2 separate regions of the Homo sapiens genome follow, and region 1 is linked to region 2. Evidence: fine-mapped expression QTL. A gene starts in region 2. The other region holds a variant in brackets. All regions are shown on one strand. Distances are between the middles of the regions.

Region 1 (16,365 bases), 69 kb after region 2:
AAACACTGAGTTGAAGGATTTTGATGTGAGGAACAAAAGATGTCTGATACAGTCCACCATTCCTCCCACTAGCAGCAAGTCCTTGAATAATGTTGTTTCCCTCAACACCATTTCACTATAACGTTGATGAGAAAAAAATGTTTCTTTATCTGTTGTTTAACTTAAAGTCATAGTTTCCAATAACCTATCGACTTTATTAAGTGTGGACTTAGTGTAATCAAAGGAGCTTCTAGGCCTCATTCATGACATGACCACTCTCACATCAGAGACTGGTCAGTGTGGCATTTCCATGGTGCTCAATCCTGAATGCATTCATCACAGAGCAATTTGACAGCTGTACAAGTAGTGGAATAAAATTCTGCGAAGTTGGTTGGTGTTTATTTTTGCTACTACATTGCCATGATCTCACCGGAGACATTAAATAAGGAAAGCGCTAATTATTTAATTAACTGCAGCTGCTGATGTTGAGTCACCTACCATTTCTGCATAAATCAAAGGAAAATATACTCTTTTACTAGATAAATGTTTATGTAATTTACTCAATAATTTTCAGTAAAATTTTAGAAAGTGTTCACTGTGTACCAACAGCTACAAGCTAATATGTGGGGACAGAGCAGTGAATCAGAGAGATGGGATCCATGCTCTCTGGGAGGTGATAATCTGGTCATGGAAGAAGGAGCCTCATGCATGTGATTAGATGATAGTTTCCAATGTGGGTGATGTTGTTCCTGTAAGTGGGTGTGGTGCCCGTATAACAATTTATTCTGCATGTAAAACAGTTTTTCTTATTTCTTTTCTTATTCACCATTTATTTGTCTTTTTGCTGTACTTTCTGGGAAGATTTCTTCAGTTTCATTTTCCAGCTATCCATCTCCTATTTACTTTTTGTTTCTACTGACATATTTTTTTAATTCCCCAGAATTCTAATTTGTCTATTTTGTTTAACCTGAAGCAATTTAAGCAATGTCTTCTCAGATCTCTGCATATAGAAATGATATGAATCTTTACTGTCCTCCATAGTCTGTTTCTTCCAATGTGTTTTTGACCCTTTTTGATTGCCATAGCACTGTATTTCCACATCAAAGGCATTTCTTTCAAATAGAAGGGATAAGTTCAAGAGATCTATTGAATAGCATGTTGAATATAGTTAATGGTGATGTACTGTATTCTTGAAAAATGCTGAGGGTGGATATTAAGTGTTCTTGACAAAAAAAACTATATAACTAAAAATAACCATATGAAGTAACAAATTTCTTTATTAGCTGGATTGAACCATTCCACAATGCATATATATACAGTTGTGTGCCACATAACACTTCAGTCAACAATGGACTATATGCATAATGTTTTTTCCATAAGATTACAATGTAATAGTTCTACAGTACTCGTCTATGTTTAAATATGTTTAGATACACAAATAATTACTATTGTGTTACAGTTGCCTATAACATTCAGTACAATAACATGCTGTACAGCTTTGTAGCCTAGGAGCAATAGACTCTACCACATAGCCTGGCTCTACCACCTTGGTTTGTGTAAGTACATACTATGATTATTCAATGACAAAATCACCTAACCATGAATTTCTCTGTCCTTAAATGACTCGTGACTAAACTTCAAAGATCATATTGTACACAATAAATACATATGATTTTATGTCAATTTAATACAGTTAAAAATGGTATTCTGCTCAAGGATAAGAGTGGGGGACAAAAAGTTGATTGCAATTTCTGTATAATTTAAAATTCTCTTTTGGTTTGTTTGGGCTATTTTTGAGGAACCCTTAAGATAAACATCTTGAAACAGTGAGATTGCTTAGGGTTGTGAGTTCCAGAATTCTGGCAGCCAACTGAAAGAGAAGGGCTGGGAGTGGCTTCATATTCAGTGTTTCAAATGTTAATGGTGACTTAATCTCCCAATTTCAGTAATGTATTCTCCAAAATCTTCCTGGAGCCACAGTACAAAGACATTTTCTGTCTGGGCCAGAGACTAAACCTGCAGACTTGTGCTGGGGATGGTGGGGGCGGGGGATTTCTTGGAGATGTGGCATGGGAGAGGGATCCAGCTTCCCAGTGTTCACTCTATCCTTGGAGTCTTTACCATCTCTCACCCTTCCTGCTGCTCTCGCTGTACTTCTTAAAATATAAATTGTCAGTTTTTTGTTTATGCTACTGCCAACTTTAACTTTGGCCTTCTTGGGTATGCTAAGCTAGTTATCCCTGTGTGAATTAGGAAAAAGGGTTCTCCACAGGGGGACGCATGTCTTACTTGATGAGGGCAAAGCAAAGAGCTGGATTTTGTCTCCCACTGGCTTCCATCCCAGCCTCTGACATATACCGTGGCCATGGTCACCATGGGTCCATCTGCTGTTTATCTCATCCGTGTGAGTTTTTGCTTTTTTATGAAATCTTTTTGCAATAGCTTACATTTATGAAGAAAGCTAAATTATGCATATTTATGTAATCTACCATCATAACCCAGAAATGGTATTTAGAAATTTTTAAAAGCCAGATAAATACAATGTTCTGCAATCATTTTCTTGACAGATTTCTTTAGAAATCTGTATTTATCCCTGTGGCTAAATAGAATTATCTGCTTAGAATTCTTAAGACAGATCATGTAGCAACTGAGATCAGAATATTGCTAAATAAGCAACCCTGAAGAACATACCATTTGCAAAGCAAATTCAAAACCACATACTTGGCTTGAATAAGATAATATTAAAGCTTAGATGTCAGCTAGAATAAGCTTGATATTTAAAACTAATTAAAGAGTTGTGCAAATTGCACATAAATACATTACTCAGCATATCCTGCATCATTCAGTAACTGAAGAACATTATTCATCTCACTTAGTGACCTCTCATTCAAGGGTGAAAACAGAGATTACTTTATTCTCAATGATGGAAGCCAGGAGCTATTTATTCAAACTAAGATTCCCTACACTCTAGCTTTTTTAATGGGTGGGAAATTAATAAAATCACAAGAGACTTTGCACTTTTTCTCTTTGCCACGTAGGTAGGGAAAGGAATGCATGGCACGGATCTTTATCAGAGTCTCGCAATGTGCTTTAGACAAAAAAGCTTTATAAGAAACATTTTTTTTCTTCTGGGGATTAGAGAATACTTTGGTGACCAACGCCTCTGCCCATAACATCTATGCAGCCTTACCTTTGCCCACCTCTATAGTGGTCAACTCTAACCCTCATAAATAAAGTTAAGTTGAGATAGAGTAATCCATCCAAGCACTACAGTGCTCAGTGAGAGAGTCTAACGAGAGACTTGCCCATTTGTGTTCCTCAAACTCTACAGGCCGTGTTCTCAACGCAGTAATATCTCCAACCAAATAAAATCTTCTGAAGTATAATTCATAATTGCATCACTTTCTCCTTAAAGCCTTCTGGTGTTCCTCATGATCTGCCTATTAAAGTCTATAATTTATTAGCCTGGCTTCTAAAGCTCTCACAATGTGCCTTTGGTATAATTTTACCATGTACAGTCTATATTTGCACCAAGTCGAATGGCTTGCTGTTTTTCTAAAAATGTAAAATTTTCTTATTCCATAGGTTTGCACGTACCAATATTTCAGTTTGGAAACTGTTTCTTCCCCTTCTCCATTCCATAGACATTCTCTATGTCTGTTACATGTTATCCATCAATTAAGTTCCAGCTTAAGGGCCACTAACTTCACTCAATCTGACTTCAGAAACTTTACAAAATTAAATTTGATGTTATATTAGATAGATAATCAATACACATACACACATACATAGATGAGATATATATACATATATACATAGATGAGATATATATTTCTTACTCAATTTCAGTCAATTTAGACAAATTTCGCCCCCTCCCCACCACCCACACTGCTTTTTAAACATGATCTCCAGTTCTGGAACAGGAGCTTGGCAAATAATAGTGAATAATTCTTTCCTGAAAGAGTGTCATACTGAGCCCTTTAGACATTTTTTTGTGGGGCAGTAAAATTGTAATAGATTCTACTTGGATAGAGAGAAGACATTTGTTTTAAGAAATAAATTTTGTGGCTTTTGTCATTCAGAGTTGTAGGTGGGCATCTACATTGCATCTTCATGATGGGTATGAGATCTATTATTGTGGTTTGGTTAGACTTCTTTTGTGCCTCAGCATCAGGCCAATTTTCATAAATATTGCACGTGTGTTTGAAAATGATGTGCTCTCTCGTTTTTGGAAATGAGTTTGTTCAACAAATACTTTCTTGAAGAGCTAATATACGGTGGGCACTGTTCTGAATAGTAAGAAGGATAGTGTCATACAAGTCTTCATGGAATCTACTAGTTAAGGGGTAGGGAAATAAGCAAATAAACATGTAGTGTTATATTACATCATGTTAAATGCTAAAAAAAACCATAACCAAGATTTATGGAAGGTGTTCACCGAAGGCTTTTCTGAAGAGATCTTTTAGAATAAATTTAAATACAATGACAGAGCAAGCTATGTGATTGCACCCATTATTTGGGTGAATATCCTTTCAGGCAGAGGGAACAAATGGAACAATGGCCCTGCAGTGAGAATAAGCTTGCAATATGTGTCTGGAAGTGATTAATCAAGAGGGAGATTAGGAGGGGTCAGAGAGAGAAGTGTGAGATCATATGTGCCTTTGTAGGCTGTGGAAAATAATTGGGATTTTACTCTGAATGAGATGGAAGCCATTAGATGTTTGAGCAGGGATGTGGTGTGACTTAAGCATAGGGCCCAGGATGGTGGGAGATTAGTTGGAAGGCTATTTCAGTCCTTTAAATGAAATATGTTGAGGTCTTGGATGTAAGGAGAAGACATTGAAGGTGGAGAGAAGTTTCCATATTCAGCAGACATTTAGAAGGTAGGGATAAGCAGACTTACTCTGATGACTGAATATGGATATGCAGGACCTGGAGGAGTAAAGCATGACTAAGAGTTGGGGCCTGAATACCTTGAAAATGGTGCTGCCATTTAACGAACTAGAGAAAACTGGGGAAGAGGCCAGCTGCTGCCGAAAAATTTGCTGTCCAACCCTTCATTTTTTTTTTTTTTTTTTTTTGCTTTTTTGCTTTTTTTTTTTTTTTTTATTATACTTAAAGTTTTAGGGTACATGTGCACAATGTGTAGGTTAGTTACATATGTATACATGTGCCATGCTGGTGCGCTGCACCCACTAACTCGTCATCTAGCATTAGGTATATCTCCCAATGCTATCCCTCCCCCCTCCCCCTACCCCACAACAGTCCCCAGAGTGTGATGTTCCCCTTCCTGTGTCCATGTGTTCTCATTGTTCAATTCCCACCTATGAGTGAGAATATGCGGTGTTTGGTTTTTTGTTCTTGCAATAGTTTACTGAGAGTGATGATTTCCAATTTCATCCATGTCCCTACAAAGGACATGAACTCATCATTTTTTATGGCTGCATAGTATTCCATGGTGTATATATGCCACATTTTCTTAATCCAGTCTATCATTGTTGGACATTCGGGTTGGTTCCAAGTCTTTGCTATTGTGAATAGTGCTGCAATAAACATACGTGTGCATGTGTCTTTATAGCAGCATGATTTATAGTCCTTTGGGTATATACCCAGTAATGGGATGTCTGGGTCAAATGGTATTTCTAGTTCTAGATCCCTGAGGAATCGCCACACTGACTTCCACAATGGTTGAACTAGTTTACAGTCCCACCAACAGTGTAAAAGTGTTCCTATTTCTCCACATCCTCTCCAGCACCTGTTGTTTCCTGACTTTTTAATGATCGCCATTCTAACTGGTGTGAGATGATATCTCATTGTGGTTTTGATTTGCATTTCTCTGATGGCCAGTGATGGTGAGTATTTTTTCATGTGTTTTTTGGCTGCATAAATGTCTTCTTTTGAGAAGTGTCTGTTCATGTCCTTTGCCCACTTTTTGATGGGGTTGTTTGTTTTTTTCTTGTGAATTTATTTGAGTTCTTTGTAGATTCTGGAAATTAGCCCTTTGTCAGATGAGTAGATTGCAAAAATTGTCTCCCATTCTGTAGGTTGCCTGTTTACTCTCATGGTAGTTTCTTTTGCTGTGCAGAAGCTCTTTAGTTTAATTAGATCTCATTTGTCAATTTTGGCTTTTGTTGCCATTGCTTTTGGTGTTTTAGACATGAAGCCCTTGTCCATGCCTATGTCCTGAATGGTATTGCCTAGGTTTTCTTCTAGGGTTTTTATGGTTTTAGGTCTAACATTTAAGTCTTTAAGCCATCTTGAATTAATTTTTGTATAAGGTGTAAGGAAGGGATCCAGTTTCAGCTTTCTACATATGGTTAGTCAGTTTTTCCAGCATCATTTATTAAACAGGGACTCCTTAGCCCATTTCTTGTTTTTGTCAGGTTTGTCAAAGATCAGATGGTTGTAGATGTGTGGTATTATTTCTGAGGGCTCTGTTCTGTTCCGTTGGACTATGTCTCTGTTTTGGTACCAGTACCATGCTGTTTAGGATACTGTAGACTTGTAGTATAGTTTGAAGTCAGGTAGCGTGATGCCTGCAGCCTTATTCTTTTGGCTTAGGATTGTCTTGGTGATGTGGGCCCTTTTTTGGTTCCATATGAACTTTAAAGTAGTTTTTTCCAATTCTGTGAAGAAAGTCATTGGTAGCTTGATGGGGATGGCACTGAATCTATAAGTTACCTTGGGCCATATGGCCATTTTCATGATATTGATTCTTCCTATCCATGAGCATGGAATGTTCTTCCATTTGTTTGAGTACTCTTTTATTTCATTGAGCAGTGGTTTGTAGTTCTCCTTGAAGAGGTCCTTCACATCCCTTGTAAGTTGGATTCCTAGGTATTTTATTTTCTTTGAAGCA[A/G]TTGTGAATGGGAGTTCACTCATGATTTGGCTCTCTATTTGTCTGTTATTGGTGTATAAGAATGCTTGTGGTTTTTGCACACTGATTTTGTGTCTTGAGACTTTGCTGAAGTTGCTTATCAGTTTAAGGAGATTTTGGGCTGAGATGAGGGGGTTTTCTAAACACACAATCGTGTCATCAGCCAACAGGAACAATTTGATTTCCTCTTTTCCTAATTGAATACCCTTTATTTCTTTCTCCTGCCTGATTGCCCTGGCCAGAAATTCCAACACTATGTTGAATAGGAGTGGTGAGAGAGGGCATCCTTGTCTTGTGCCAGTTTTCAAAGGGAATGCTTCCAGTTTTTGCCCATTCACTATGATATTGGCTGTGGGTTTGTCATAAATAGCTCATTATTTTGAGATACGTCCCATCAATACCTAATTTATGGAGAGTTTTTAGCATGAAGCACTGTTGAATTTTCTCAAAGGTCTTTTCTGCATCTGTTGAGATAATCATGTGGTTTTTGTCTTTGGTTCTGTTTATATGATGGATTATGTTTATTGATTTGCATATGTTGAACCAGCCTTGCATCACAGGAATGAAGCCCACTTCATCATGGTGGATAAGCTTTTTGATGTGCTGCTGGATTTGGTTTGCCAGTATTTTACTGAGGATTTTTGTATCGATGTTCTTCAGGGATATTGGTCTAAAATCCTCTTTTTTTGTTGTGTCTCTGCCAGGCTTTGGTATCAGGATGATGCTGGCCTCATAAAATGAGTTAGGGAGGATTCCATCTTTTTCTATTGATTGGAATAGTTTCAGAAGGAATGGTACCAGCTCCTCTTTGTAACTCTGGTAGAATTTGGCTGTGAATCCATCTGTTCCTGGACTTTTTTGGGTTCGTAGGCTATTAATTATTGCCTCAATTTCAGAGCCTGTTATTGGCCTATGCAGGGATTCAACTTCTTCCTGGTTTAGTCTTGTGAGGGTGTATGTGTCCAGGAATTTATCCATTTCTTCTAGATTTTCTAGTTTATTTGCATAGACGTGTTTATAGTATTCTCTGATGGTAGTTTGTATTTCTGTGGGATCAGTGGTGATATCCCCTTTATCATTTTTTATTCTGTCTATTTGATTCTTCTCTTTTCTTCTTTATTAGTCTTGCTAGTGGTCTATCAATTTTGTTGATCTTTTCAAAAAACCAGCTCCTGGATTCCTTGATTTTTTGAAGGGTTTTTTGTGTCTCTATCTCCGTCAGTTCTTCTCTGATCTTAGTTATTTCTTGCTTTCTGCTAGCTTTTGAACGTGTTTGCTCTTGCTTCTCTAGTTCTTTTAATTGTGATGTTAGGGTGTCAATTTTAGATCTTTCCTGCTTTCTCTTGTGGGCATTTAGTGCTATAAATTTCCCTTTACATGCTGCTTTAAATGTGTCCCAGAGATTCTGGTATGTTGTGTCTTTGTTCTCATTCATTTCAAAGAACATCTTTATGTCTGCCTTCATTTCGTTATGTACCCAGTAGTTGTTCAGGAGCAGGTTGTTCAGTTTCCATGTAGTTGAGTGGTTTTGAGTGAATTTCTTAATCCTGAGTTCTAGTTTGATTGCACTGTGGTCTGAGAGACAGTTTGTTATAATTTCTGTTCTTTTACATTTGCTAAGGAGTGCTTTACTTCCAACTAAGTGGTCAATTTTGGAATAAGTGTGATGTGGTGCTGAGAAAAATGTATATTCTGAAAATGTATATTCTGTTGACTTGGGGTAGAGAGTTCTGTAGATGTCTATTAGGTCCGCTTGGTGCAGAGCTGTGTTTAATTCCTGGATATCCTTGTAAACTTTCTGTCTTGTTGATCTGTCTAATGTTGACAGTGGGGTGTTAAAGTCTCCCATTATTATTGTGTGGGAGTCTAAGTCTCTTTGTAGGTCTTTATGAATCTGGGTGCTCCTGTATTGGGTGCATATATATTTAGGATAGTTAGCTCTTCTTGTTGAATTGATCCCTTTACGCTTATGTAATGGCCTTCTTTGTCTCTTTTGATCTTTATTGGTTTAAAGTCTGTTTTATCAGAGACTAGGATTCAACCCCTGCCTTTTTTTTGTTTTCCATTTGCTTGGTAGATCTTCCTCCATCCCTTTATTTTGAGCCTATGTGTGTCTCTGCGTGTGAGATGGGTCTCCTGAATACAGCACACTGATAGGTCTTGCCTCTTTATCCAATTTGCCAGTCTGTGTCTTTTAATTGGAGCATTTAGCCCATTTACATTTAAGGTTAATGTTGTTATGTGTGAATTTGATCCTGTCATTGTGATGTTAACTGGTTATTTTGCTTGTTAGTTGATGCAGTTTCTTGCTAGCATCAATGGTCTTTACAATTTGGCATGTTTTTGCAGTGGCTGGTACCAGTTGTTCCTTTCCATGTTTAGTCCTTCCTTCAAGAGCTCTTGTAGGGCAGGCCTGGTGGTGACAAAGGCTCTCAGCATTTGCTTGTCTGTAAAGGATTTTATTTCTCCTTCACTTATGAAGCTTAGTTTGGCTGCATATGAAATTCTGGGTTGAAAATTCTTTTCTTTAAGAATGTTGAATAATTGGCCCCCACTCTCTTCTGGCCTGTAGAGTTTCTGCTGAAAGATCCGCTGTTAGTCTGATGGGCTTCCCTTTGTGGGTAACCTGACCTTTGTCTCTGGCTGCCCTTAACATTTTTTCCTTCATTTCAACATTGGTGAATCTGACAATTATGTGTCTTGGAGTTGCTCTTCTCGAGGAGTATCTTTGTGGCGTTCTCTGTATTTCTTGCATTTGAATGTTAGCCTGCCTTGCCAGGTTGGGAAAGTTCTCCTGGATAATATCCTGCAGAGTGTTTTCCAACTTGGTTCCATTCTCCCCTTCACTTTCAGGTACACCAGTCAGACGTAGATTTGGTCTATTCAGTTAGTCCCATATTTCTTGGAGGCTTTGTTCATTTCTTTTTACTCTTTTTTCTCTAAACTTCTCTTCTCGCTTCGTTTCATTCATTTGATCTTCAATCACTGATACCCTTTCTTCTTGTTGATTTAATCAGCTACTGAAGCTTGTGCATTCATGTCATAGTTCTCGTGCCATGGTTTTCAGCTCCATCAGGTCATTTAAGGGCTTTTCTACACTGGTTATTCTAGTTAGCCATTTGGCTAATCTTTTTTCAAGGTTTTTAGCTTCTTTGTGATGGGTTCGAACTTCCTCTTTTAGCTAGGAGAAGTTTGATCATCTGAAGCCTTCTTCTCTCAACTCGTCAAAGTCATTCTTCATCCAGCTTTGGTCCATTGCTGGTGAGGAGCTGGGTTCCTTTGGAGGGGGAGAGGCACTCTGATTTTTAGAATTTTCAGCTTTTCTGCTCTGTTTTTCCCCATCTTTGTGGTTTTATCTACCTTTGGTCTTTGATGATGGTGACGTACAGATGGGTTTTGGTGTGGATGTCCTTTCTGTTTGTTAGTTTTCCTTCTAACAGTCAGGAATCTCAGCTGCAGGTCTGTTGGAGTTTGCTGGAGGTCCACTCCAGACCCTGTTTGTCTGGGTATCTGCAGCGGAGGCTGCAGAACAGCGAATATTGCTGGACAGCAAATGTTGCTGCCTGATCATTCCTCTGGAAGCTTCGTCTCAGAGGAGTACCCAGCCATGTGAAGTGTCAGTCTGCCCCTATTGGAGAGTGCCTCCCAGTTAGGCTACTCAGGGGTCAGGGACCCACTTGAGGAGGCAATCTGTCCATTCTCAGATCTCAAACTCTATGCTGGGAGAACCAGTACACTCTTCAAAGGTGTCATACAGGGATATTTAAGTCTGTAGAGGTTTCTGCTGCCTTTTTTCCAGCTATGCCCTGTCCCCAGAGGTGGAGTCTAAGGAGGCAGGCAGGCCTCCTTGAGCTGCAGGGGGCTCCACCCAGTTCAAGCTTCCCAGCTGCTTTGTTTACCTACTCAAGCCTCAGCAATGGGGAGCACCCCTCTCCCAGCCTCACTGCCACCTTGCAGTTCGATCTCAGACTGCTGTGCTAGCAATGAGCAAGGCTCTGTGGGCGTGGGACCCTCTGAGCCAGGCGTGGGATATAATCTCCTGGTGTGCTGTCTTTTGAAAAGCGCAGTATTAGGGTGGGAGTGATCCTGTGTTCCATGTGCTGTCCGTCACTGCTTCCCTTGGCTAGGAAAGGGAATTCCCTGACCCCTTGCACTTCCCTGGGAGGCAATGCCACACCCTGCTTTGGCTCACACTCAGTGGGCTCCACCCACTGTCCTGCCCCCACTGTCCTGCCCTCACTGTCCGACAAGACCCTGCGCGATGAACCTGGTACCTAAGTTGGAAATGCAGAAATAACCCGTCTTCTGCGTCGCTCACGCTGGGAGCTGTAGACTGGAGCTGCTCCTATTTGGCCATCTTGGAACCGCCCCCTTAAGATTTTTAAAAGCCCTGTTGAGTAGTTGAGAGGGTCTGTGTGGAACTTTAAGTATTTCTGAGGTCTCAGCAAAGGATCTTATAGTCATAAACTTGATATGAACTTTATATTGAGGGCAAGTTTTAATGGAAATGCCCTTGCTTTGATGTTTGCCCTGTAGCCATTTTTTACTGTAATAAGTCTTTTCATGTCTGAAAAGAATAGTTTTATTCATGAAAAAAAAAAAACTAGTGCTGGCCCCTTCATATTTTCTGTAAATTCTGCTTGAAAATTGAAAAATTCTTTTTCATTCTTTTTTTTTTTTTTTTAACTTATCTTGCTGTTCTTCTGTTTCACTAGAAGAAGCTTTTTCCAGCATTCTGACTGGAAAACTTCTTAGCCAAAACCATAAGTTCCTGAAGTGCCCTTTATATAGCCCATGTTATTGCAGACAATGCTGGTTGTTTTGCCAAAATAACTTGTTTTCTTTTTTTTTCCAGCCTGTAATAATATTTCTTCACTGTACTTTAAGCTTTCACTAAGAGTCTGTGCTTGTGTCTTGTCCCAAAACTCAACAGTTGATGTCTTAGGTTTTAGTTGTCCAGCAACCCACCTCTAGGCCCAACATCAATGGTTAAAAAAGAGGATAGAAGCATGAAAGCAAAAAAAGAAATTACTGTGAAAAAATATATACACAATTCACTATATAAATTTTAAAGCCTTATAATATCAACCTCTCTCACTGTAAGTAAAGCTAAAGTCAGTAAGCTAAGATTACTTGAACCATTTAAGATGAGTCTAGAATTAGATTTAAATAAAAAATGGGAAGTGATCTTAGAAACGAAACAATATATATTAAAGTTTAAAAATGTTTGACACAATAGCTTTATTCTTTGAAATGTATGCTAAAGAAGTCAGAGGTATACTTAAATGTATTACTATGAGGATATGCATTACAATATTATACATGCTAAAAGATTAGAAAGAAAAATAAAAAACTAGGTAAAATAAGAGATTGGCTAAATAAATCATGATATTGCTGTATTAAAAATTAAGACCCAACATCATGTTTTCTGAGGCTGTTTAACATACAGAGAAAAGCTCACAAAATATCAAATAAAAAATCAAGTTTAAAAAATTGGCGATAATACAAACAAATGCATAAAAATGGAAATATATATTCAAGTATTGAGTAGTAATTTTTTCTGATTTCCTAATAATAAATAGTAATAATTTTATAATTGAAAAACCCTCAACAAATAATATATACTGTTTCTAGTGTTTTCTGGGAGTTCAGTTAATGATTTATTATAATTATCATTATCATTATTATCCTTAGAGACAGGATTTCACTCTGTCATCCAGGCTAGAGTATGGTAAAACAACCACAGCTCACGGCAGCCTTGAACTCCTGAGTTCAAGTGATCCTCCCATCTCAGCCTCCACGGTACCTGAGACTACAGATGCATAACACCACACTAGGCTAATTTTTAAGTTGTTTGTATAGAAAGGGTCTTGGTATGTTGTCCAGGCTGGTCTTGATCTCCTGATCTCAAGTAATTCTCTCGCCTTGGCCTCCAAAAGTATTGGGATTACAGGCGTGAGACTCTGTGCTCAATCCATTATTGCTTTGAAAAACGGAAGTTGTGACTCTGACTTCCTTAAAACTGGATCCATATTCGGGGTGAAGTATATCTTGGCCTCTTAGGATTTATCTGATAGGTATAGAAAGTTAGTGTTGGTCAGGCACAGGCACCCTTGGGTAATAGGAAAGTAAAAAGAAAGAGATTTGGTACCTGCTTTAGAAAACAGCTATTAGTAAATAAAAACTGAATTGTTACTTACTGTATCTCTTGTAACAAGAAATTTGTGAAAGAGCATTTGCTCTTACTAGAAAGTCTAAGGTTAATAAATATAAAGTTGAAAAGATAACATTAAAATTATAAAGAAAACTAATTTTTACTTCCTTGGAACATTGAGACAAAAAAAATAATTAATGATCATGAAGTACTTTGAAAATGTATCTACATTGTATAACATCAGACTCGGTGCTAACCTTTGGTAGAGTTCACAACAAATCAATTAATTCTTGATCATCCTGGCAGCACTGCCAAGTATCATTAGTGCTAGAAGCCATAAGCAGCCACTGAAGACCTGCCTATTTGTACTTCCTGGAAGACTTAGTTTTCAGTGTGTGGCATGGAGCTGGCCCTGACTGTACATTATAGCACAAATAATTACTCCTCAAAACTTGGCTTGCTGCAAGCAATTCATTCTTCTCTGCACAGAAGTCCCCCACTCTGACCCAGAGCAGTATGAATGTTGGCTAAAAATAGCAGCTGCACAATGCGGCAGGCAGCCATGGTGAGACTGCATTGATGTGGTTTCATACCCATGGTTTCAGAGCACTTTGCTCACACAAATTAACCCTTAAATACCCTATCTTGTTTCTCTGTTCTTTGAGATATAATGCATGTTTCTTTTTAAGAATAAACTTTGCTTTGCCTGATGGAAAATTCTTCCTTTCTCTCAGTTTATGTGTTTACTGTTTCTTGTTTCTCCGTTTTCTTTCCTTCTGCAGTTGGAGTGGGAGAGTAAGAGTGTCAGTTCTGCCACTGTCACTGCAATTTCTGATCATACTACATGCTCAAAAGAACACATTCACTAACACTGGCTATGTGCTTGTATGTGCTAGGCACTGTGGAGGATAAACATAAAACCCTCATGTCCTTATCGCGTTAACCTCAGGAAAATCAAGCGCTTAAGTAACAAACAGTGAAGCATTTGACTCCAATCTTCAGTCTCACTAAGGTGATTCGAAGATCCCTGACCTCCTCACCCTATGCTTGGTTTCAAGGATCCTCTAATGTGAAGGTCTGCTGAGTGGAATTCTGACTTAAGGACTCCACCTGCATCACTCAAGTCTCAAGTAAAGCCCTATTACAAAGGCTTCTACCACCTTTTGCTGACACATCTTCTTAGTCTTGTTGATCTTGGTTTAAGATTCACTTCACAATCATTCCAGAGGGCCTGGATTCTGTTATGCTAATTGGACCGCTGGACATTCCAGAGTTCCTACGAGGCAGAGGCTGATTAAGCCAAACTCTAACCCTCAAAAAGGAGGATGATGGACAGATGCGATCTCTGCCCTCAAGAAATTTATGATTTAACCATGCATACTAATGGTGGTGATTATAAATACAGCATCTCACGTAATTCTGTTGCCAGATTTTGCTGGATCAATGAGCAGAAAGATGGACCCTGAGTTGCAGTCTATCTTAATATTAATTGTTAACTCCTTAATGCTCACTGTGTAGCAGTGAAAATATTTAGAGCAGCATTTAGCTCTTCTAAATATTTTACATGTGTTTAGTCATTGTATCTCCACAATAACCATATCTTCATCATCCTTTTCAGAGAAAAACTCAGCACTCAAGTTCACAAGAAAAACAGTGACAGAGTCAGGATTCAAACCCATGTGGTGTAATGTGAGAGCATACATGTTAACTATAATAGTAAATAACCACAGGTGGTACTGAATTTCTGGAACGGCAATTTGTATTCTTTGGAGGATCAGTACATTAAATGCTATTCTCAAAAGGAGGCTGTGAATATAAGTTTGGAAAACATTGTATATGCTATGTATGGGATTTATGGCAGATTTTAACATATTACAATTGCATATGTAAATACTGCAGGGAGGAAAACAGTTTTTAGGCTTGTTCAATACAAATTTTCCAGACATTTTTGCCCATGGAATATTTTTTCACCACATAGTTCCTTAATATGCTGCTGAAGAAGATATCTGAAAAGCCCACTTTTAGAAATGACAGGAAAGGAATATAAGAAAAATTGATGTTTCTAAAAAGGACTCATAGTGATAAAATGAGATGAAGGTTCCTATAAAGTCAGGAATTGGGGAGAAGTGTCTGTGTTATGCTTCAGTAAAACATGATGTCGATATTAGCTGACTGTGCTTTATATTTCTCCCTACCCCTGTTCCCATCTGCAATTCATTTTTTTCAAAAAGCTATGTAGTGTGTTTCATGTTCGTCTTGTCTATACTGTGAAGGAAAAACTTCCTTTAAACATTTATTGTAACGTAAAATGTTTAAAGAAGAATAAGATTTATTTTAAAAAGTACACATGTATCAGCTCCATTAATTTAAAATGTGAACACACATGTGCAACTAGCATCCAAATCAAGAAACAGAGTATGACTACAACCCCAGATGCCTCTCCCTTTTCCAGTGACTACCCACGTTCACCAAGCATAACCACTATACTGACTTCTCTTCCCCTAGATTTATTTTTAATTCAGTTTTTTACAGCCTTATTGAGGTATAATTGACATCTATTAAACTACACAAAATTAAAGTGCAGTTATTGATGATGAGTTTTAACATATGTATCCCACACAATCAAGATAATGAACATATCCACCATCCCCCAGATATTCTTTTTGACCTTTATATCAACTAAACGACAACTGCACTGCTTTCTGTCACTGTAAGTTAGTTTGCATTTTATGTAATTTTACATAAGTGGAATCATACCTGTGTATTCTGTCTCTTTTTGAGTGGAATCTGGCTTATTTCAATCAGCATGATTACTTTAAGATTTTTTCATGTTTTTTTTCCATTAGTAGTTTATTCTTTTTTATTGCTGTATAATATTCCATTTTATGGATATACCACAATGTGTTTACCTGTGTGTCTTTTGATGGAAATTTGAATTGTTTTGGCCTTCTGGCCATTAGAAATAAAGCTTCCATGAACATTTGTGTAGAAGTTTTTGTGCAGATGTATGCTTTCATTTCTTGCTAGCTAGCTAGCTATACCACCTAGGAATGGCATGCCTGAGTCACATGACATATGTATACTTAACATTTTAGGGAATTACACACTTTTCTAACGTGGATGGAGAAATGTACATTGCCGTCAGTAGCATACCATGTTTCAGTTGTTTCATATTCTCATTGACAGTTGATATGGTTGGGGTTTCTCATTTTAGTCATTCTAGTGTTATGTAGTGATATCATATTGAAATTTAATTCACAATTCCTAAAAGGCATCTTTTCGCATGCTAACTTGCCATCTGTACAACCTCTTTGGTGGAATATCTGTTCAAATAGTTTTTCCTTTTTATTTCTCT
Region 2 (16,365 bases):
ATCCAGAGCTCTTGACACTGTATTTTTTCATTTGTTTTAATGTTTACATTGAAAAATTAAATTGAAGGAGCCCAATTTCTTTAAACATTGGTGTCAGTTGTCTCCATGAATATATGTTTTTGGCAGGGGCATGGGTGGCAGTGATGATGAGGAGGCAATGAGGAATCCTCCCAACTAGGAATTGGTAAGATGGCTTAACCAGCAGGTTTTCCTATAATGTTAGACTATTTAAGCAGATGCACTAGCAAGGAATAGGTCCTCTGTCTTCCTCTGGCTCATGCTTAACCCCTGAAGTTCCAAGTGGTTATTCTCACCCAAATTTAGCTGGTTGTCCTCAAATAGACTTTTTCAATGGAATCTTGTGTCAAGTTTTAACCAAGCAGCATCTCCCTCGTGAGGACATAGGGGCCCCCAGATATGTTAGCCTCCCTTCTCTTCTGAAGACAACAGCAATCTTACCTTCAACAATATTTATGTACTTACTAATTATAGGTAATGTTAAATGTTAAGTGTTAAAGCTTACCTGAATATTGTAAATGATGTACTGAGGATAGAACACATGAAATAATCATTAAGAAGGCAACCTTGCCTTAATACTTCTTCAGCTAATGGTACTGAAAATGAAGTGTTGTTCCTGTAAGTTTATAGGAGAAGTAAGTGGATTACTAATCCTTTAATGTGACAAAATGTAATTATCCAAAAGTAGTTAAAACCAATTGCATTCTTTATGCTATTCATATTTTATAAGCTAAAAAAAGACATACAGTGCTATGCTGAAATCTGAATTTCTTCTACTCATGTGGCATTTCATTTTCTAGTGCATTTTCTAATGAGTCTTATTGGCTTCTGGGAATGAGCACTCTAAATTTGGAAAACTATGTATGTTTTGCCTTTATTCCTATTTCATTTCTTTTGGCATCCCACTTATTACTTTTTATTGCTCCATTACTTTTTATTTTGTCCTATAACACTGAAAAGATAACCTAAGACACACTTCTTCCACACAAAAGCTTGAACTTTGGAAAACTGCTCAACTTTGTATGTTAAATACTTACTCACGCTGCTGCCCTTTTTTATAAAAAGAAAAGCACATAGATGAAAATTAACAACTTTGTGCTTTTATCAGCCTCACGCTTCCTATTCAAGAATGAAACTGCAACATCATGAAGTTACCATTAAAAATCTAAGAATAGAGGCATAAGAATGCAGCCTATGTATTAAATATTTGTGATAGAAATGAGAAGGCTGAGATAATTTTTGTGGTTAAGAATAATTTAACAACTAAAAAACAAGCCCTCCTGAGAGGGCTTTCCTTTAGATTTTTCAAAACACAAGTGTAGAGTTTCTGCATATCTTTTCTAATCATAACATTGAGCAAGAGAGGAACAACTATTTTTAAAACACAGAATAGATACAAGACAACATAAATCTGGAAGAGATCTTGGCTGTCTGCAACTCCTTTCTAGCCTTCGGAGGATTAAATGTTAGTCAGTCCGGAAAGAAAATTATTTATTCTACGCATTTTATTCCTTCAAACATTTCCAGAAAAGATGACTTCATTTTCTTTGTAATTTATTAAAAAATTTAGAATTTTTTGTGACCTTACTGGGTAGATATTTTAGGGCAAATTTCATAGAGTTTATTGTTAATTAATGTACACAAATTACCTCTTATGTCTCTGCCTTGGATAAAATGTATTTACTGTTTAAGAAAACCAGAATGAAATGAGATAAAAAATGCAGAAAAAATAAAAGTACCTTTAGAACTTGTGTCCAAATGTTCATATATCTATTCCACAAAGGACAATTAAACAACTGATTAGCCTATTTACTGTATTGAAGAGACCTGGACGATTAATCAGGTTTTTTTAAGGCAAAGCTCAAATAGAGATTTACTTTTTTTTTTTTTTTTTCTTTTTGAGATCCAGGCTGGAGTGCAGTGGCATGATCTTGCCTCACTGCAACCTCTGCCACCTGGGTTCAAGCGATTCTCCTGCCTCAGCCTCCCAAGCAGCTGGGACTACAGGCGCGTGCCACCACGCCTCACTAATTTTTGTATTTTTAATAGATACAGGGCTTCACCATAATGGCCAGGCTGGTCTCGAACTCCTGACCTCATGATCCACCCACCTCAGCCTCCCAAAGAAGTGCTGGGATTACTTGCGTGAGCCACCACCCCCAGCCTAGAGATTTACTTATTAAGGGAAAACATAGTTCCCCCAATTTAATATTTTTTATCAGTGTATTAAGTACATAAGTCTTGACATATGCTTTTGTTCTCATTCCTTCTCGATTTCTCATGATACTTGCCCCTCTAATTTTGTGCCCTAACTCCATAATGATTTTAACATCCTTTTGTATTTATGTTTCTGCCAAAGGAAGTTAACCTTTCTTCTTGGGTGCTTTATATATGCTACCTCTTTAAGCCTCATTAACCTTAAGTTCTCCATATGGCAAAGCTAAGATTCAAATCCAAATCCCCTTGCCATCATAGAATATTACTTTAAAAATTTTTTTTCTTTTTAAAATACCTCTATTTTCTACTGCTGCTTGTTCTGGTAGGATATTACTTTTTAAATTTGTTTTTCTTTTAAAAATACCTCTATTTTCTACTGCTGCTTGTTCTGGTTCTGTCTCTCTTCCTTTGACACTCAAATTTCAGATGTGACCCATTTGTTTGGTGTCTTCCATTTCTTTGATACCTGTTTGTACCTGTCGTATGCCCCCGACTATTCTCTTGAAACTGCCTTCTCCAAGTTACCAAAGTCCTGCTAATTTCCAAAATCCTGGATTTGCCAAGTTTTTCTTTATATTCCCACATTGTTGATGTTACAGGTAGCAGTGGAGGTAACAGAAAAGGGAAGTCCTCAGTGTTACACTGGCATATGTTTACCAACCAACCCTGCAGAGGGAAAAAATCTAAACTTATAGCTTTTGTTAATGTTCTTAGTGTAAATATTCCGATCGTACATCATTTTAACCTACCATTGTGGTGTCACTGGAGTTGTGGAACATGGAGTTGGGAGGATATCCAGGGAGCTTGTGTGAGCTGGCTCCAGCAAGCCAATGCATGTCCTTTTTGGGATGTTATTATACTTCTTGGCTTTTGCAAGATGAAGCATGTGATTCACTTTCTTTTTCTTTGACTCCAGCTTCTCCCCATCCTTTTATTGCGTCTATTTCTCTCTTGTATCCACTAATAATTGACTTAGTTGAGAATTAAATTTTGCATCCCTTTTTTCTCTTCCTTGGTGTTTTCTTCTGCTCTCATGTGTTTTGCCATCCCTGTAGCACAAGTGATGCTAAACCCTTGTCTGTCCTCTCAAGGTCATCTCCTCATTCCAACTGTAATTTTTTATCAGATACCCTCCCTTTTGCTTGATATTCAGTAGGGCTGAAAATAGGCTCTTTAGCTTGCCCCTGCCAAAAAAATAAGTACTTTCTTCTCTATCCTATTAAGAAGTATAAATGCAAACTATATGCCAGATACATCATGAGGTATTTTGAACACAAAATTTGGGAATGATTATCCATATTTTATAGATTAAAAAAATTCCAAGCTGAAATAACTTGATTAGTTTATCAAATTAACCTATCAAATAGGCAACAGAACTCAGATGTAGACACAGGACTCTGCCACCCAAACCTATCTTTCTTTCCATTATAGCATCAGTGAATACAACAATCATTTTTTCTCACACTGATTTAAAATATGCAAGTAATTTTTGAGTTTTTCTGTAATTATCACATCCTATTTCATCCCCTGTGCCAGTGTTTGTGCAGGTGTCTATCTCCTTCCTACGCTATAAGCTTCTAAAAGCAAGAGTCATGCAATATTCATCATTTTCTTACTGTAACAAAATTTATTGTAGTGGAAGATAATAAACCTTGATTTGATAAGCAAAATAGTTAATGAACAATGATAATGTTGAATATTTTCATTGTATTTATGCTATAAAAGTGTTTCTCTATCATCTTTGTTGAGAGCTACCAATGATTTTGTACACAGAAGATGAATTTTTGCACCAAAGGAATATTCAGGTTTAATTTGCTGCAATGAGGAAGAAAAATGGAATACAGAGTATGCTCATATTTTAGTGTAAATCGTAAAGTTTACCAACGCCCTATTGTTTTCAGCCCAATGCTCTTTTACCCATTTCTAGCCAGATTACAGCTTACACTCCAGGGAGTCTCAAATCGGTTTAGGGCAATATTCCCCCTTGCATTTCAGACAAATTCAGGGGACTCTTGGGAAGTCTTTACACCTTCAAAAATCTTAATTAGGGCCTAGGACTCAGTATTGTACCCAAATTTCTCTGATTTGCAAGAGCTATCGACACTACTCTGTTGTTAGTACAAATTGCCAAATGTAGGGCTGGGCGTGGTGGCTCATGCCTGTAATCCCAGCACTTTGCGAGTCCGAGGCGGGCGGATCATGAGGTCAGGAGATCAAGACCATCCTGGCCAAGGTGGTGAAACCCTGTCTCTACTAAAAATACAAAAAAATTAGCTGGGCGTGGTGGCGCGTGCCTGTAATTCCAGCTACTTGGGAGGCTGAGGCAGGAGAATTGCTTGAACCAGGGAGTGGGAGGTTGCAGTGAGCTGAAATCACACCACTGCACTCCAGCCTGGGCGACAGAGCCAGACTCCGTCTCCAAAACAAAACAAAGCAAAGCAACAACAACAACAACAAATTGCCAAATGTGAGGACGTTATGTGGTGCTCTGCGTAAGTGCATGAGTAGATGTGTCGTCGGACCTTTCCTGAATCTGTAGTTTCTATTTTTTGCATCACCTGTGGTATTTCCTGCCCTCAACAGCATGGAGAAGCTGCTTCTTGACTGAGTGTGCCTAAGGGCTCCTCTACACATAGCAATTCACAGTCCTGCCGCAAGATAGGCCATAGATACAGAGCTTTTCTTCCCATGAAAGTAGGTGGGGCCATATTGGCTGCTTTTGACTGTAAAAGTATTTGAATCTGTAGTGTAGTGGACAACCCCAAAATTACCCTTTTATAATTCTTGAGATGTCTGTTTTCTGCGATGCTTTACACTAATCTACTATGCCATCCCCTTTTTACAGAAATGTTTTAAGTTGCTGTTTATCATAAAATATCTTCAAATACATCATTTATCAGACTCAATCACTAGCAGACTTAGAACAGTCTTAGAAGCCTTTAGCTATAAACACCATTATTTTAAAAAATACGTGACAATTTGAACCAGTTCGTTGAGCATCAGGGACTTTTAAGTGAATAGAAGGTAGTGTCCACGTCTCAGAGATTTTACAGACAGAATATACCCACTACAGAATAATCTATTTGTTTAGTGATTCTTTGCAACTGAGCAGCGACAACCAAGATTGAGTCTGACAAAAAAGGTTCCATTACTATGTCTCAACTGATATTCCATTGTTGAGAAACTAGTGGCAATTGTACTTTGAGAAGTTTGATTTCAATGTAAATCTTCAGAAATATAGATGAGCAGATGCCTCATTCACATTCCATCAGACATAGAAGATAAAATTATTAATCCGGTTGGTGAGGGTAAAACTTATATACAAAAATCTGAGATGATTTTTGTTGCTGCACCATATGCTGATATGGTATAACTTTGATAATTGTCTTTTATTCTCTACCTTGCAAAATTAAGCTTTGTCGAGAGAGATGAGGAAATGGCTGTTCATGGCTTCCCAGGAATGCCAGTTTGGACAAATAACATTAAATTGTCCTTAGAGCCTTTTATGTGGATTGAATCAAATACATAATGGAACTCCCTATTTAGGTCTTTAATTCTTTTAACTTTAAAATTAGACTATATGAGGATATTGGAGGATGGTGAAAATTATATGCCAAGGCTTTAGTTCATGTGATATTACTGAACTGTGATAGAGGTTCTACTTTAAAAGGGCAGTTCTGCATGATATTTAGCTCGGAGTCTATGTTCCTACATTTTGCAAGTGATAGAATCACAACCAAATTAGTTCAGTGAACCCCCCAAAATAAGCAAATAATAAAGTTTATATTTCAAATATTCCACTTACAAGTGCAGGGTTCATTTTGTTGTTTCCCTAGAGAAAATTCATTTTAAGGTGCTGTGTGTGTGACGTGTGTGTGTGTGTGCGTGTGTGTGTGTATTCTACAATTTGTCTTATTTGGTCTGCCTTTGTCTCTATTCTCCCTCTAGCCTGGTTGCCTTGGTTACCATTACATGCATGCTTGTATGTGAAGTTTCTCTTTGACGTACATTTATTTCTATGGAAACAATGACATCATTGGTATGGGTAGGTGCTTAGGAAAAGCAAAAAGAAGCAGCACTGAGTATTGGTTTTTCTTTCGATGATAAAATATATCATGAAATAAATATTTTAAATTAGAGAATTATATTTTTGCTTTCATCTTGACTTGATCAAGAAGCTAGATTTTTGCTTGTTTATAGACTTGCTCGAGTAAAATAATTTAAAATGTTAAATATACTATTTCTCTCCTGATACATTATTTGGTGTCATAAAACTCACCACAGATAGGTATAATAATAATAATTAACTCTAAAAGTCTCTCAAATAGTAAAAAGCCTATCTCAATAACATTTGTTACCATCAAAAAATTGTGCAAGGAATTTTATATTCACATGAAAGCAACAGCAATGTATAGATGATGGATCAAGGGAAAAAAGGCCCTATTTGTAGTTATTATTTTTAAAATCTCTAGTTTTAAAAACACAGGGATATAACAGGAAGCTGATAGTTATTAAACCATATTTTCTATGACATCAAATAAGTCCATGTGTAATTGGTATTCCGTTTTATCTTAAATCTTAAGAGGCTTTTTACATCTTTTTTTTAAAAACGATTTTCCTCTCCTTTCTACTTCCACACTACTCCAATCTATTTTTTTTCTTTATAGATGATGTGGAAACCTGCCTATGATTTTCTGTATACCTGGAGTGCTCACTATGGAAATAACTACAGAGATGTGTTACAAGACCTTCAGTCAGCTTTGGACAGAATGAAAAACCCTGTGACTAAACACTGGAGAGAATTAACTGGAGTTTTAATACTAGTAAATTCTTTGGAGGTTTTGAGAGTAACTGCATTCTCCACTTCTGAGGAAGTATAGAAACAAAGCGTGTGTTTTTGATGGGAGGGAAAATGAGGTAATGGTGTGTGTGTGTGTGTGTCTGTGTGTGTCTGTGTGTGTCTCTGTGTGTCTGTGTGTGTGTGTCTGTGTGTGTGTGTCTGTGTGTGTGTGTGTGTGTGTGTAGGAAAGAAAGAATCTCAGAAAAGCATTATATTAATTTTCTTCATGCTCAAAACCAGTTTTTTTTTCCTGATGAAAGCACAGCCTAACTGATAACCAAGATGGGTTTTATCCTCAAATATGTATTTTTGTGTATGTTTCAAATACAAGTATTAGGCTGCTTTGTTCTTAGAAAGGAAAGAAAAAAGAAAAGTGCCCTCTCTCTCTTTCAGTGTTATTTTAAATTTACTAAGTCAAAGCTGTTTGAATAATTACATCACACAGATATCTGGGTAAACTAGAGACTATCAACATGATCAAGGCAGTGTTCCCAGGAGGCAGCTAGAAAGAGGGGAAGCAAGCACACACCCTGTGGCCAGTCACGGCTGCCCGCTTTCCACACCTGACCTCTTCAGTTCATCAGTGGGGTTCACCAGCATCACCCCCATTTTTCATGGGGAGAAACTCAGAAGTGGAGAGAACGTCTGAGGCTACATAGCCAGTACAAAGTAGGTTTTCTGCTTGAAAAACCTGTTTCTATTTCTTTTTAAAAAATCATACTGCATAACAGAATAGTAAAAACAAAATGCGTGTTAAGACTTACAGGGAAACAGTTGCCGTTTCATTTTAAGTGAGACTTGCTACTCTTTTTCATCGTCTCTTGAAAGACTGACAGAAGGAAAATATGACTTATCAGAAATCTGTTGTCTGCATGCATGGACCTAGTGTTTTCATCAGCTCCCTTCAGCATCTTGGGACCTCTCTAATCCTGCCTAATTTGGGACTTTTTCTGCAGGATTGTAATGTAAAATAGTTCTTTAGCTCTTGGAGATTTTTAATAATACGAGTTATTAAAAACCACCACCACCAGAAACTTGATTAACTTGATTACCCTGTTGAGTAGAGAGGTCTTAACCACCGAAAACACTGATATCTTTATGTTGGCATGCTCATGCAAACACATGTGTGTGTGTGTGTGTGTGTGTGTGTGTGTGTGTGTACCACAGTGTTTTATAAAGCACAGCCTAATTGATTATATAGGACAAAAATTGTATAGGACCCTGGGTCAGTATAAATGCTAATGGCTGACAAAGTTCACAAAGAGATGTATTTTGCTTACTCCTCTGTTCAATCCTCTGGTTGCCTGCCAGTGTTTATGTGTGTATTTGGACAGACATTCATTTATTGTCATTCAGTCAATAGGTAGAGTATATGTGTCTATTTTTTGGCAGGCATATAGATGCTTGAGGCTAATGGGAAAAAACCAGCATGAACTCTGACTTTAGTAGTGCTAAGTAATAGATAATTTTAAAAAATGACACCGTTAAATAGAAAATGGCATGCATACTAACAGTTGCAATGGAGAGGCTGTGATGCTACGAGATATAAACGTAGAGATGCCATCATGTGAAACTGGAAGTGGGGGTGGGTCAGGGAAATTTGTTCTTGGAAAGAAATAATGAACCTCAAGGAAGAGTAGGCATTGTCCTGGTGTGGTGGGGTGTAAGCGGTGATCCCACAAAGCACTGAAGCTCTTAGATGGGTGGGAGCTGAATAGGTGCAGATAGCAGGGGTGAAGGAGTGAAAGGATAAAAGATTCAAGGTTGAGATGAGGATGGAGCAAGAAGAAGCCACATTAGGGCCATTAAGGCTGCTAGAATTTAGAAAGAAAACACACAGCCTCAAAGAAATGTGGGTAAGCCAAAGAAGGATTTTGTTTTGGGAACCTGAATAAAAGATGTCCATTTGGCTAAAAAGTAAAAGCAGAATCTTTTTAGGGCTTTTAATATACCCACCCTGGGATATTTGGTATGCTGGCAATGGTAATTCAAATTGGCGTTTAAGAATAATCTTGGCCGGGCGCGATGGCTCATGCCTGAAATCCCAGCACTTTGGGAGGCCGAGGCGGGCAGATCACTAGGTCAGGAGATCGAGACCATCCTGGCTAACGCGGTGAAACCCCGTCTCTACTAAAAATACAAAAAATTAGCCGGGCGTGGTGGCAGGCGCCTGTAGTCCCAGCTACTCAGGAGGCTGAGGCAGGAGAATGGCGTGAACCCGGGAGGCGGAGCTTGCAGTGAGCCGAGTTCATGCCACTGCACTCCAGCCTGGGTGACAGGCTGTCTCAAAAAAAAAAAAAGGAATAATCTGTACGGCTTTCAGTATTTATATTTGATTATAAGGGAACACAGCCTGACCAAATAATTATGTATACACATTCAAGGACAGAATTTATTTTAATTAAAAATAAATTATGAGAGAAGGAAAAAAAAGCACAGTTTTTACTTTCAGAACACAGTCCTTTTTTGTGGTGATTTTGCTTTCTTTAGAACATTCTTGGAATCTTATTAACATGTCAGCTAACCAGAGAATTTTGGGAAGGGATAGTGGGGATTAATAACTGGGTTTTTCCAGGCTCCAAGATCTAAGAAGACAGAGATCTTGTTAGCTGATTAGTGTAGTAAGATTAAATAAATAATTTAAGGTTTACATTGCATCATGTATTATGATTGTGATTGAGAATAATAAGAGTTTAAAAAAATGAAAAACAAGATCTCTGTAATTTGAGGATGAAACAATGGTTCTAATATTAATACACACAAATATATTTTATAATCTTGTAACAAATCCTTCCAGGGGAAATTTTTTTTTTTTTTTTTTTTTTTTTTTTTTGAGCCAGAGTCTGGCTCTGTTGCCCAGACTGGAGTGCGGTGTTTCAATCTTGACTCACTGCAACCTCCACCTCCTGGGTTCAAAAGATCCTTCTGCCTCCGCCTCCCAAGTAGCTGGGATTACAGGCATGCACCACCTTGTCCGGGTAATTTTTGTATTTTTAGTGGAGACAAGGTTTTACCATTTTGGCCAGACTGGTCTGGAACTCCTGACCTCAGGTCATCCACCTGCCTCGGCCTCCCAGAGTGCTAGGATTACAGGCATGAGCCACTGCTCCCAGCCTTCCAGAGGAATTTTAAGCCCATGTCCAAACATTCTGTTTGTATAAATATATTCTAATTTTTAAATAAATAGTTTCTACTTTTCTGAACTTTATATTTTTTCTTGCTATAATGGATTTTCATAATCAGAAAAGATTAAATTAGTAATCATGAATTGCCTTCAATATTTGGCAGTAAGTCAATGAAATAATAAGGCACTTATATACCATCTTTGACATCATTAAAAGTATCAAATCCCATTAATCTAAAACTTCTTTAAGCATTTTGAAAGCAGAAAATGTTTACATGGTTCTTTCAGTTCCTCAGGCTTTTTGTCTAATGATGCGTGACTTAGGATAAGATTTGAATTAAGTGCCCAGCTTGAAACATAATAATTTTTCTGTATAAGCCACAGATCCTCTACCTCCTTTGTGTTAAAGCCTTTATATGAAACAATTAAGTAGAAGCATTCAATAGTGTGTCATTAACTGTTCATACTAATAAATGGATACAGCACATTTTCATGGCCTGTAATGTAGAACATACTATATAAAGTTCTCAGTTTGGGGATGACTAGGTTTCTGGAAGGAATAGAATGCTAAATCAATGGATGGCATTGGGCTGAGAAACACTGCTGCTACTAATCAGCCTTGAATGTGTAATGTGAACATGCAAAAGAGAACATGCATACACTCAAATTTGTACAATGCTATAACTGGAAGTTGAAGGACTTGAATTTTTATATTGTGCTATTGTTATGTTTTCTGTAATTGTTTATATCTAAGGAATTTTTGAGGTAATATAAAAGAAAAAGAGAATAATGAACAATGATGTCACTGGAGGGTTTTTACATTAAATTAGATCATTTTTCTTCTTATTCACAATAATAATCTTAATCTTTAAGAATTAATTATAATTTAATATTATAATTCATAATCTTTAAGAATTAATAATTATAATTTAATATTATAATTAATAATCTTTAAGAATTAATAATATAATTTAATATTATAATTAATAATCTTTAAGAATTAATAATTACAATTAATAATTAATAATAATCTTAATCTTTAAGAATTAATAATAATCCTTAATCGCAATAATAATCGCAAGGAGGAGAAGTAAGTCCCTCCTCCTTCTGTATGAACTTTTCTCCCACATGCTGCTGTATGGTTTAGTGAGAGTGAAGTTCTAAAGAACATCAATATGATTGGTGGGATAATCCAAAGACATTTTTTCAGAATCAAATGGCATGTCGAAGGTTTGTTTCTTGCATATGTATTTACTGGTCCACAGCACAAAATAAAGTGACCACATATACATAGGAAAGTTGAATTTGTACACATACAGCATCTGAAATGTATCTGATGTTCAGCATCAAGATTTCACTGAACATTGTAGAAATGTGTATCTTTTGCATGTATATTTTACATTGATTTTCTATTTATGTACATCTAGAAAGTTTTAACCCTAATAAATAGTTTTGTAATTTTGAATAATAGTGTCAGTTTATATGTGAGGGAGTAGAGACAGAGAGGTTAGCACTGGATAATAATTAGTAAGGCCAAAGGAGAAAATTTCATAGAAAATATTGTTGTTGTCATAATGAGTACAGCATGAAAGGCTTCCTCTACAAGACACTAGTCAAAGAGTTGAGAGCTGCGGTTTCTAATCTTTGTCCATTACTCCCTTACTCCCTATGAGACTGTGGACCTGTCACTTGGCCTCTCTGGTCTTCAGTTTTCTCACCAGTAAAACAAGGAACTTGAACCAAATGACCTCTAGTGTTCCCCTTGGGTTTAAATGTCTATAAATGTTCAATGACTAGAATGTATTGCGTTTTTCTTTATTCTTTTTGCTTTGAGAAAAGAGAATGTGATTTAAGAGTAATAATTTGAATACCAATTATCCACATTAAAATTGTGTCCTCTATGTGTAAGGCATAGCACATTTAGCACACATACATAAGCACACTAAGCACCTTACAAATATCCTCATTTATTCTTTACATAATCTTTTGAAATTGATTATGTAATACACACTGTTTTTGAACAATTGGTGACTTCCAGCTGTTTAAAACAAACTACAGTATGGTGCTTGAGTACTGACTTAGGAGGTCAGCATTGGTTTCACTAGGAGCTTCTCAAAGCACGCTGCCAAACATGCTCCAGTCTCATTGTCAAGGCCTTAGACCAGGCAATCATTACGGCAGTGGTTCTTCAACTTCAGCAGCAGCAAAACGATCTGGCGGGGGCTTGGTGAAACAGACTGCTGGGCTCGACCACCAGAATTTCTCATTCAGAGGGTCTGGCCTGATCACTTGCATTTCTAATCACTTCCCAGGTGATGCAGATGTTTCTGGTCCAGGGACCCCAGTTTGAGAACCACTGTATTAAAATTTCCTTCATCTCTATAGAAATGGAAAGATTTTTTATAAGTCCTCTAATTTGCTTTAAGATAAATGAGATTTCACTTAATTCTGTTGGAGAAATTGTTTTAAAAATTGTGCTAAAGAACCGAAAATCACTTTATGTTAAGGCTCTATTTATAGCAAGTGAACTTTTCATGAGTTAATAAAGGCCTACAAAAATAATTTTGACTGTGAAACTAATTAAAATCTCTGTGTTTCATTTAAAGCATAAACATATTTGAATAAAAATAGGTTAACAATAATTTGGGACATGTATTCAGTATAATTTTAAGATAATTTTACAAAATATATGTAACATTGCATTTGTTTCTGTAAAATATCTTCGGAAAAAGCCTTGTTTTCCCTAGTGTGTTATTTGTTGAATTTCTTGTTAAATGTATTTTTTCCCATTGAAAAAAATGTTTTTAATCAATGTGATCAATACAGCTATCTATATGCCCTGCTTTCACTGTAGAATTAGAAAGTGTTAATAAGGTGATCGGATGTTCTTTCTAAGGATCATATTCCACATTTAAAGAGATGGTGACTGAGAAGAGGTGGCAAGCTGAACCATCTCACTTTGAGATTGACGTATCACGTTTTATCCTCTGCCATCATTTCCTTGTTAATTGTTTTTCTTTGGGTGATTGGAAGAATCTATGGCTTCCTTTTCTCTGTTCTTAAAGATATCAAGACTCTGCCCTTTTGTGACTGGAAGTAGATTTTAAATGTCCCTAATGTTTATATGCTCACTTAAACTCAATACATGGAATTTACTGGGGCATTTAACTTGTTCATGAAAATAGAGTGAGTCATTGAAAAATCAAATCTTTAGTTATGATTAAGTTATTGTTTTTACCTAAACTGGTTCTACCAAACTCACTCTTTAAAGCAGAATCTGGAATTGGCAAGTCTGATGTAATGCTGATCTTACACATATTAGATTAAATGACCTAATAGAACCAGCTACTGCGCCCTTTCTTATCAGAGTAGAAAAACCCATTCTCTGGGTTTACTCCCAGGAAATACATACTCAATGCTCACTCAGACGTTTTATATCATGACGAAAAATCAAGAAAGGGGTGAAGTGGAGCTAGGGAAGGGTTCAATTACGGTGTAAAGAAAGAAGGCTGCCTATTCATGACAATGGAAACTTTGTCTTCCTCTCTTTGTGTTGGAATTTTTATTTTTATTTTTATTTTTATTTTATTTTATTTTATTTTTTAGACAAGGTCTCCTTGTCTCACCCAAGCTGGAGTGCAGTGGTGCAATGATCGCCTGACCTACCTCCACCTTCCAAGAGTAACAGTGCTCCTGCTCCAATGTGACCTTACAAATCTTACATAGATTTCTCTGTGGTCAACTCTAATCAGCAACACTCAGAGACACTCAGTGAAGAAAGCCCTGGGAAACACTATTTAGTTTAGCCCAGGGGAAATTACAAGGCCATGTCACCTTGAAACTGGAACATGAGGAGAGGTGAGGATGGAGCTGCTGCAGCCATGTTGTTACCATAAAGGGAAAGCCCAGAGCTGCTGGGCAGCTTTGTGGAGCCCAGGGATGAAACTAATATAATCAAATATAGGTAGGGGAACTAACAAAACAAGAACAAAACACAAGTTTGATCACACTCTTCAAGCCTTGGATACTGGAATGCCTGAAACTGCCTCCTGGAGTTTTTAGTTGTGAGAGACAAATTCTTTGTGCCTAATCCAGTTTAAAATAGGTTTTCTGACACCAGCTCTCGAAAGACCGATAAATGACAATTTTGATGTAGGGCTGCTGCGTTTGCTCTAGCTGAAGTTTCTTTGGTGTTTTACAAAACAGTCTTAGATAGCATTAAATCCATCCAGGAGATAAGCAAACAACAGTTAATTTGTATCTTTTTATAGATCAGGTAAAGAGAAAGAAGGAAAGATACTGTGTTTTCCATTTGTAAAAAGACCAGGCCAAACACTGTGGCTCATGCCTGTATTCCTAGCACTTGGGAGGCCAAGGTAGGAGGATCGCTTGAGGCCAGAAGTTTGGGACCAGCCTGGGCAACAGCAAAACCCCATCTCTACAAAAAATACAATTAAAAAAAAATTGTTGAGCATGGTGGTGCACATCCGTGGTCCTAGCTACTCAGGAAGCTGAGGCGAGAGGATCACTTAGCCTCAGCACTATTTGCTGCCTCAGGAAATCTTTCTCCCTCAAGTGCAATTCAAGAAGCTAGTTTTCTGAGTCCTTAGTATGAGACTGGCAATGGGCCTGCTTTTCTATAAACTTCTGCAATAAATCAAATGATAAGTAAATGGAACTTCACTGGCAATATCTGCTCTCTACATACCACTTTACGAATTGCTGATGACATGACAAAACCACCTACAACCCCATCAAGGCCACAGGGGCACCTGGCCTAAGAGGACCAGAGGCAGATCTCCTGTGACTTCAATTACTCTCAAGCAGGACCTATAATGTAGTAGATGCACTTCACCTACTGCTAGAAAGAAGCTGAGGGGAAGAGAGGGACAGAGAAGGAGTTCCCAGAATGCTTGATTGTGAAAATTGTAAGGTTAGAATCGAGTGTCATGACCTGCTGGTGAAAAACAACCATGGCAAATTCCTTCAAACATTTCCTGAATGAAACTAGGAAAGCGGGGTCCAAGCTCAGTGGTATTTCACCTTTCTCAGCCATCTGACTTTTCACTGGAGATCTTTATCTCTTCTTTTGTCTGAGTAATAACCCCAAAATGTTGCCCAAGGGGAAAGTAGAACAGCAACAGCAATTGAAGGGAATTACATGATTCCAAGACATCATCAAAAAATAGGGCAAAATGTAAAGGGATACCACCAACAATGGTGGTGTGTTTGTTCTTTTTTAAAATACCTAACAGCTTTATTAAGATATAGTCAACATGTCATAGAATTAATCCTGTCTTTTTATTTTTAGGAGCCCATGATCATTTTTTCCTTAATATATAGTTCCTGTTTAATGTTTGTTCAACTATATTCATAATTTGCTGTACATAGAGAAATGCTCTTTGGGATGAAATTGGATATTAGGTTTTTCAAGGTTGAATGGAACGGTGTGGGTTGTGGCAAAATAAGAGATTAGTGATCAAGGTTATTTAAAAGAGGAAGATAAGTAAGTACTTGATATTACATTCCTAAATCTATTTTCAAGTGATTTCACTGATAGTTTAGAAGAAAAAGGAAAATCAAATATCCTTTCACGCTGTTAGAAAAGCTCTATATTTCTTTCTATTTTGATTGCTGAGAAGTTACTGTATGCTTAGGAATAAGAGTCCAGGTTCCAGTGAAACAGGTGCAAACCCACTGCATGTAATTAATCCACCCACCCTGGGTTCCTGTCTCGAGCAAAGTTTTAAATCCATCTTTAATGAGAGCTCTGTTTTGACCACTTAGTATATTCTGTGTTTATCTAGTAAAAAACTGCATTACTGTAGTCCCCCATTATCTGTGGTTTCACTTTCCATGGGTTCAGTTACCTGTGGCCATCCCCGTTCTGAAAATATTACATCACTACTCTTGTACGTTGGGGCCAATATTAAGTAAAAAAATGTTCCTTGAACACAAGCACAAGGAAACAGTGACAGTCAATCTGATAACCAAGATAGGTACTAAGTGATGACGGAAAAGGAAAGAGTGAGACTTCATCACACTATTCAGGATGCCATGCAATTTTAAAATTTATGAATTGTTTATTTCTGGAATTTTCCATTTACATCACAATGCCTACCTCATCCGCCTCACTTCATCTCATCATGTAGGCATTGTATCATCT

Evidence for each region. PIP is the estimated chance that this variant, and not a neighbour inherited with it, causes the effect.
Region 1: its variant is fine-mapped to the expression of MACC1-OT1 in minor salivary gland (GTEx, PIP 0.94).

Annotation. Positions count from the first base shown.
Region 1 is chr7:20,062,660-20,079,024 of GRCh38, reverse strand. All of the region lies in intron 1 of MACC1-OT1 (MACC1 3' UTR overlapping transcript 1), which reads left to right. Among named protein-coding and RNA genes, the nearest start is that of MACC1-OT1, 70 kb to the left of the region's middle. The variant A/G (reference allele first, on the strand shown) is at 6,839.
Region 2 is chr7:20,131,696-20,148,060 of GRCh38, reverse strand. MACC1-OT1 (MACC1 3' UTR overlapping transcript 1) reads left to right here and starts at 7,635. Exons shown (of 6, transcript NR_110114.1): 1 at 7,635-7,744. MACC1 (MET transcriptional regulator MACC1) reads left to right here. Exons shown (of 7, transcript NM_182762.4): 7 at 6,903-13,406. The coding sequence ends at 7,115. It overlaps MACC1-AS1 (MACC1 antisense RNA 1), which reads right to left and starts at 6,145. Exons shown (of 4, transcript NR_046756.1): 1 at 6,041-6,145; 2 at 524-634.